Linked DNA regions of Homo sapiens: region 1 is reported to be linked to region 2. The links are microRNA targets in miRTarBase. Many come from high-throughput screens and were not tested one by one. Region 2 holds a microRNA gene; the other region holds the end of a gene's coding sequence.
What was found. The annotated mature microRNA hsa-miR-766-3p reads ACUCCAGCCCCACAGCCUCAGC and lies in region 2 at 1,886-1,907, shown strand. An mRNA with a match to its seed (bases 2 to 7 or 8) in the 3' UTR can be bound and repressed. Matches are read on the target gene's strand: a 7mer-m8 pairs with bases 2 to 8, a 7mer-A1 pairs with bases 2 to 7 and ends in A, and an 8mer does both.

Region 1: miRTarBase lists RER1 as a target of hsa-miR-766-3p. Seed matches in the 3' UTR shown: 7mer-A1 at 2,992-2,998 and 7mer-m8 at 1,814-1,820.

The regions. Positions count from the first base shown.
Region 1 is chr1:2,402,643-2,406,642 of GRCh38, reverse strand. RER1 (retention in endoplasmic reticulum sorting receptor 1) reads right to left here. Exons shown (of 7, transcript NM_007033.5): 7 at 1,207-3,608. The coding sequence ends at 3,519. PEX10 (peroxisomal biogenesis factor 10) reads left to right here. Exons shown (of 6, transcript NM_002617.4): 5 at 24-159; 6 at 809-2,669. The coding sequence ends at 877. Among named protein-coding and RNA genes, the nearest start is that of PEX10, 7.9 kb to the left of the region's middle.
Region 2 is chrX:119,644,430-119,648,669 of GRCh38, reverse strand. It overlaps MIR766 (microRNA 766), which reads left to right and starts at 1,822; the gene lies at 1,822-1,932. All of the region lies in intron 5 of SEPTIN6 (septin 6), which reads left to right. RefSeq lists an enhancer at 589-768.

The DNA.
Region 1 (4,000 bases), not on the chromosome of region 2:
ACGCTCTGCCCCACCTTCCCCAGGGCCTCCTTGGAGGAGAGAGCCGTTTCCAGAAACCCCCTGTGCACCCTGTGCCTGGAGGAGCGCAGGCACCCAACAGCCACGCCCTGCGGCCACCTGTTCTGCTGGGAGTGCATCACCGCGTGGTGCAGCAGCAAGGTGAGGTGGGAGCCTGCTGCCGTCCTGGGGTGGTCAGCGGCTGTGCCGGCAAGATGCACCTGGCTGCAGCAGAAGTGGGGAGTCTGGCTCTGAGCACCCTCCAGTTTTGAGGGTACAGAGGTGGGCATCTTTTTAAAGGCTCCCAGGTAGGTCAGATGTGGGTTCGTTGAGGGGGTTAAAGTTCCAAATTCACGTGTATTGAGGCTTTGCCGAATGCAGGTTGGGGTAGTGGCCAGCCCTGAAAGGCCCCACGCTTGCACCACGCATCCCAGCACACCCTTCCTCCCGGGGTCCTCACCACACTTGAAAACCCTAGCACACTGACTCACACCCACCGAAGATGCCGGCAGGGTGAGAGCGCACGCTTTCCCAGGAGCTGGGCTTCGTGGGCTGTGTCAGCTGCGGGAGCAGGAGGGAACCTCCCGGCCGAGCCCCACACCCTGAGCCCTACGCCCCCAGCCCCGCCCCAGCCCCCACTGGGACTCGGCCTTCTGAAAAAAGGCTGGCTTTCTTGGTCATTAGTTGAAGGAAATACAACATTTATGTTGTGTGTCATGTGCAGAGAATGTGGACAGGAAAAGAAATGCCGATGGGGATGGGCATGGCCCAGTGGCCCCAGCTGCTGTGACCCCCTTTCTCCTCTCCGCAGGCGGAGTGTCCCCTCTGCCGGGAGAAGTTCCCTCCCCAGAAGCTCATCTACCTTCGGCACTACCGCTGAGCCGGCGCCCGGGTGGGCCTGGACACAGATGACCTCTACGGGAGTCTGAACGCCAAGATTTAGTCTCAGGATTAACCTTGCTTGCACAGAAGTTAGAACACTCTCAGTTTTTTGTCATGTAAGATACTAACCTAGCCACCCTGGGAGAGAACAGAAAGCTGTCCCTGGCTGCGCTTTCTCAGCCCTGGGAGGGGCGCCTGAACCCAGAACATTTCCCTAACCCCAACCTGGTAGGACTCAGCCACTTCTTCAGGAATTTCACTTATTTGGACGGGATTTTAGGTTTCCCTCCCTTCCCCAAACCATACAGTTGAGAAGTAATTCAGAAGTAGGCCAGAAGACACTTTATTCGTTTATATTGTGAGAAAACAGCCCCATCAGGCTTGTGTTAAGGCAATGGACTGAATGAGTGCGTGCTGGGTGGGGTGGGGCACGGAGGCTGGCGGGTTGCTTCAGCCAGTGCAGTGAGAACAGCAGCCCCACGGCCCCATGGGAGGCGGCGCTGCTCTCCCCGAGGGCGGCTGGGCAGAGCACATCCCCCAGGACTTGATGACCACACGGGGCAGAGAGAAACCAACCAAGGCCAGCACCTCCGTCGGAAGCATTTGGCACACACACCTTCAATACACGTCAAGGTCGCTTCCAGTTTTAGAAAACAGAAATCTGCATCTCAGCCTGAGACGCACAGAGAGGTCTCTTCCTGACCCAGACGCACTCACGAGCCAGGTCCTGGGGGTATGGGGGCTGCCAGGGGCGCCCGAGCCCTCTCCTGGGGGGCCTGCTGGGCAGGCGACCTGCTGACCCACGGTCACTGCTGTGTTCAGCCCCTCAGCTCGGCCCCAGCCTATTTCCCGCCTCCATTTGATGTTTCCAGGTTTTCAAAACTGCATTTAACCTGCGCCAGAGAGTTCACCGTAGGCATCTTTAATAAACTAACTCCAGCAAAATGTGGGTACGTTACTAACACAAGATGGAACTTGAGATTTCCTGAAGCGCAGTGTTAAAATGCCTCGAGGGCGTGTGCCACATTTCCCTGCTGACGTAAAACACCTGGCCAGCAGGACCGGCTTCCGGCAAAGACCCGCGCAAACCATGTCTTGCTGTTTGACTTACTTAGGAATGAGGATGACCCTGTATTCCTGGGTTAGTCAAGGTCAGCTTGCCAGAGACGGAGGAGGGCGGGGGGGCCGTGACCCTCTAGACTGGGAGGACCACCAGGAGAGGCACTGGGGGCTGCGGCCGGGTGGGCAGATGCCGCCGTGGCTCCATCCATCAGCACCCAGTCCTTTGCTTCACTGTGCTCTGGCCAAGCGCGTGCGACTTCCTGTCACACCTTAGGCCTGAGCGCTTATTAAGAAAACAGTATGAAAAATGACAAACACTCCTGTCCACAGTCTGAGAATCCCAAGTGTCTCAACACGGTACCAGAAGTACCACCTGGGAGCAGCACTGGCTATCTTGGGTCAGGGACACACAAGCTTGAACGTGGCCTCTTAGAGGAGCTCGATGTCAGATATGTAAACACTGGTACAAGAAAATCCAGACACTAAGCATTCACCGTGTCAATTCTGAGACAGGAAACACCGCCCAGAGTGAGGAGCCTGCGCAGCCCGGGGCCCAGGAGGAGAGGCCTTCACTCGCATGTCAGTGTCTCATCTGGGACCACAGCTGTGATGTTCTGCTGTGCAATATGGGTCACCTTTCGAAAAGGCCAAACAAAAGGTGGGCTTTCCTGTGTCCAGCGACTGCCATGTTTTAGGTAAAGACTTTAGTAAAGGTGGAGGTAAAATCACTTGGTAAAACGTTGAGAGTATTTCTTTTCTCGAATCAAAAACGCTGACATGCAAGTGGGTTCCGCCTCTCCCGCAGTGGGGGGCCGAGTGCTGAACCTACAAAGCCAGTCTGCTCCCTGCCAGCTTCGCTGCCCCTCATGGAGGGTTGCATGAGGACAGATTTAAATTAAAAACAAAACACTCTACGTATCAAAGAAATGTGTCAAAATAATCTCAAACAATTAAAATATAATATATATTTATAATTCCGGGCCCTCAAAAGCAATCATGGTAGTTAAGAACCAAGTTTTGAGTCATTAGGATAGAGGCCAACTTTAAACATCTCCAGTGAGATGGAATTAGGAAACTGGCATTAGAACCCCACACAGTTACTTGACAATCACCTTTAAAACGTTAAGTTCTTTCGGACACGCAGGAATCAGGCTAGATCATCCCTCGGGCTCTGTGGAGTGGCTGGCACCACCTGCGGCTGCTGGGGAAGGCGGCTGGCGGGGAGCGGCCCGTTCCTCCCTCGCAGGCCTTGCTCCTGCCTGCCCACCTGGCACAGCGGGGACCGGCCACTCGCCCTTGCTCCCATGGGCTCCACCCGCCTGGCTTCCCGCCTGCAGCTGACTAGAATTCCATCCGTGAGAAACACTTGAACGTCACTGAAAAAGAAATCCATGCGATTTGGTTTAAGCGCCAGTTTCTTCTAGAACCTGATATTTCAGTTACAAATCATTGAAGCTCCTTTTTAAAAAGAAAATTTGACTCCCTCGTAATCAACTACTTTATGTGAAGAAAAAAGGCATTGTTAACAATGGCTCAAAACTGTTCTTGCAACACGTGAGGCAGCCTCAGTCCCGCTTCTAGCTGGCGAAGGCCTTGCCGGCATCCTCCTTGCCTCTGTACCTTCTCTTCCCATGTGTGAACGGGATGTACCGGTACTTAATCATGTGCTGGGGAGAGAAACACAGACTCAGTTACTGCACAACCGCTCTCCAGTCAGTCACACTGTCCCCAAATCTGAGCGGCCAAAGGTCCCCCATCTTTTCTATACATCAGACAAGTGGAATCGGAGCCCCAGTGGCTTCCTGCGCCCACATCAACACAGCAAGACCTTCCACAGCCCACGAGGCCTAGGTTTGAAACCCCATCAATCCCAGTGCTTCGTGAGCCTCCCGTGGAGGAAGGGCAAGGGGGATGTGAGGTGGCCCAGGGCCCTCTCTGCAGCCAACACCCCGGGCACAGAGTGAGGCCCGCAGCACGAAGGCCACACCGTCAAGGGCACAGTCCGCAGTCTCGGCTAACTTCCCCCTAACACCCTCCTCCTCGGGCAGGCTGGCGCGGG
Region 2 (4,240 bases):
TCCTGACTTCCTGTCCATCAGTACACCCGAGATGTGTTTGTTATCACCATCACCATCTTAGACAAATCTGGCTCAAGGGTAAGGCTATCTGGAGCATGGTAGGTAGAGATAGGTCTTCTCTGACCGGCCGTGGGCATGGAAAAAATAAAAAAGATTAGCACTTGTCCTCTCGAGAAGTCAGGGCATTTTGATGGAAACTAGGCTCTGTTATGAAGAGACAGCCTAGTCTGCAGAAAAACGGGAGCCTCGCGAGAAGTGTCATCTGGGTGCCACGGGCACTGATGTCTGGAAGCGTCTAGTCACCTCAGGACATCAGTCCCCATAGAGACCTTCTGAACACTGATGCCCTAAGTCATCAAGCAGCTTGCAGGCTTGTGGTTTGCTTTGCTAAGAATAAATAGGGACTGAGAGTACTCAGCCATCTCAAGGTGTCACACAGAACCACATCTTGGTACCTCATGGATTAGGAGTGATAATCATCCTGGGCTCTGTTCTCAGCTCAGCTCTGGCCTCCTGCTAAGCCTAGGGTAGGCTCAACCTCAAGGCTGGAAACCCCCAAGCTAGGCAGCAGCAGTTGTCAAGCATGCTGTTATGGCTGTGAAGGGATTCTGGGTCCTTTATTACTCATAATTGTGTTTCACTTTGAGAAACAAAATTCGAGGCTGAACAACATAGTGAGACCTCATCTCTACTGAAATTTAAAAAAAATTAACTAGTGGCCGGGCGCGGTGGCTAACGCCTGTAATTCCAACACTTTCGGGGGCCAAGGCAGGTGGATCACCTCAGATCAAGAGTTCGAGACCAGCCTGACCAACATGGAGAAACCCCGTCTCTAGTAAAAAGACAAAATTAGCCAGGCATGGTGGCGCATGCCTGTAATCCCAGCTACTCAGGAGGCTGAGGCAGGAGAATCGCTTGAACCCAGGAGGCAGAGGTTGCAGTGAGCTGAGATCTCGCCTTTGCACTCCAGCCTGGGCAACCAGAGCAAAACTCCATCTCAAAAAAGAAAAAATTAACTGGTGCTGTGGCGCACACCTGTAGTCTCAGCTACTTGGTCGGTGGGTGGCCTAAAGTGGGAAGATTACTTGAGCCTGGGAAGTTGAGGCTGCGGTGAACCCTGATCGAGCCACTGCACTACTGCAGGCTGGGTGACAGAGCAACACCCTGTCTCACAAAAAAAAAAAAAGAGAGAGAGAAAGGAAAGGAAAGAAAAAGAAAGTAAATAAAGAGAGAAAGAGAGAAAGAAATAAAAAGGAAGGAAGGAAGGGAGGAGGGAGGGAGGGAATTCCAGTGGAAGGAAGGAAGGAAGGAATGGAGGAAGGGAGGGGAGGGGAGGAGAGGAGAGGAGCAGGGAATTCCAGTGGATTCAGGATTATCCCTATCATAAATCACTCACCACTTACTCCCTTGCATCCTACTGTGCTTTGTTTTTTTTTTGAGACAGGCTCTCACTCTGTCGCCCAGGCTGGAGTACAGTGATGCAATCAATTTCAGCTCACTGTAGCCTCCACCTCCTGGGTTCAACTAATCCTCCTGCCTCAGCCTCCCGAGTAGCTGGGACCACAGGCATGCACCACCATGCCCGGCTAATCCACTATGGGTTTTTTTTGAGTGGGAAAGAGAGGAGTGGCCTCACAGCTAGTGTGCCTGAATTGGCATGCCTGTGAGAGGAGCTTGCATGTGAGTGTTTTGTGTTACATGCGCTGTGATGGGAAAGAGGGTGCTATCAAATATACACAGAGGATTGCTTAGCCTGCCTGCCACCGAACAACTATGTCAAAAGTCCCCAGAGTCTTCACACAAGCCGTGGTGTATGAAGCTGCATCCTCAGGACCTGGGCTTGGGTGGTAGGAGGAATTGGTGCTGGTCTTTCATTTTGGATTTGACTCCAGCCCCACAGCCTCAGCCACCCCAGCCAATTGTCATAGGAGCTGGATTGGAAGAAGCGGAAGAAATCTGTTGCCTGAGTGGAGAAGACTGTACAATGTCCTGTCTCTCACCATGGGGGATTTTTGTGGCAGGAAATGAGAGTAATGAGGTCCCTGCCACCACCTTGAATTATGGGTGGCTCCAGAAAACCTTATTGTAGATTGAGGGGGAAGAGAAGGGAGAGCGAGGTCTTGTTGCATGCTATTTTCAACCCATGCTCTGATATCTCTCAAGGTTGTAGACTTTAATACTAAGAATTGCTATGTTATTTTAAATTTAATGATGTTCTTTGAATGGCTGAAAGCATGGCCAGGACCAGCAAAAAGGCCCAGTTACTTAATTGACTGAGCTCCATTAATTGTCCATTTGTGAGGTCTGGGGTTTGGTTCCCACAAAGGCAATTGACATTTGGGCCCAGTGAGAACACATGGCTGAACAGTAGGGTCATAGGAAGACCCACAGGCACAAGTCCATCCCTTCCTCTGAGACAGCAATGGTATTTCCATTGTTGCCATGTACTTTTACAGGAATCACCAGTGGTTGACTTGAGAGCAAATCAGCCAATGGTCTTGTTCAGTCACCAGCAGGGGCCTGAAATGGGGACTAACATAACTGGGAAACACTGTCCACCCTGGGAGGAAACCAAGCCCAATCAGAATATTATCATTAGATGAGGAATAAAGAGTTCTGACAGTGTGTATTTCACTGGGCTAAGCAGTCACCTAGCCTCCCAAGTATAATGGATGTGGTGAAATAAGAATAAAGTAACTCACGCCAATTGGATTATTAAGTACTTTACAATGTACAAGAAGAATTTAAGTTAGACACAAGTCAGTAAAGGTGGTGCTATGGTTTGATTGTGTCCCCTCCAAAATTCAGGTGTGGCCAGTATGATAGTATTAAGAGGTCGGGGCTGGGTGCAGTGGCTCACACGTGTAATCCCAGCACTTTGGGAGGCCAAGGTGGGCGAATCACAAGGTCAAGAGATCGAGACCATCCTGGCCAACATGGTGAAACCCCGTCTCTACTAAAAATACAAAAAATTACCAGGCGCAGTGGCTCATACCTGTAATCCCAGCTACTTGGGAGGCCGAGGCGGGTGGATCACCTGAGGTCGGGAGTTCGGGACCAGCCTAACCAACATGGAGAAACCCCGTCTCTACTAAAAATGCAAAATTAGCCGGGCATGGTGGCACATGCCTATAATCCCAGCTACTCAGGAGGCTGAGGCAGGAGGATCGCTTGAACCCAGGAGACGGAGGTTGTGGTGAGCTGAGATCACGCCATTGCACTCCAGCCTGGGCACCAAGAGCAAAACTCCATCTCAAAAAAAAAATAGCTGGGCATGGTGCCACACACCTGTAGTCTCAGCTACTCGGGAGGCTGAGGCAGGAGGATCACTTGAACCCGGGACGCGGAGGTTGCAGTGAGCTGAGATCACGTCACTGCACTCCAGCCTGGCGACAGAGTGAGACTCCGTCTCAAAAAAAAAAAAAAAAAAAAAGGTAGGGCCTTTAGGAATTGATTGGGCCTGGCCAGGCGCGGTGGCTCACACCTGTAATCCCAGCACTTTGAGAGACCAAGGCGGGTGGATCACCCAAGGTCAGGAGTTCAAGACCAGCCTGGCCAACATGGCGACATCCTGTCTCTACTAAAAATACAAACATTAGCTGGGCGTGGTGGCAGGCACCTGTAATCCCAGCTACTCAGGAGGCTGAGGCAAGATAATCGCTTGAACCCGGGAGGCGGAGGTTGCAGTGAGCCGAGATCGTGCCATTGCACTCCAGCCTGGGCAACAAGAGCGAAACTCTCATCTTAAAAAAAAAAAAAAAATGTGATTGGGCCATGAGGGCTTCTCCCTTGTTAATGGGATGAAGGCCCTTTTTTTTTGAGATGGAGTCTCGCTCTGTCGGCCAGGCTGCAGTGCAGTGGTGCGATCTTGGCTCGGCTAACCACAACCTCCGCCTCCCAGGTTCAAGCAATTCTCTGCCTCAGCCTCCCGAGTAGCTGGGATTACAGGCGCCCGCCACCACGCCCGGCTAATTTTTGTATTTTTAGTAGAGATGAGGTTTCACCATCTTGGCCAGGCTGGTCTTGAACTCCTGACCTCGTGATCCACCTGCCTTGGCCTCCCAAAGTGCTGGGATTACAGGCGTGAGCCACCACACCTGGCCGAAGACCCTTTTTAAAGAGACATCATGCAGTGTTGGGCTAGCTTGTCCTTCTGCTGTGTGAGGATGCGGCAAGAAGGTCCTCACCAGACCAGAATGCTGGTGCCTTGATCTTGGACCTCCCAGCCTCCAGAACTATG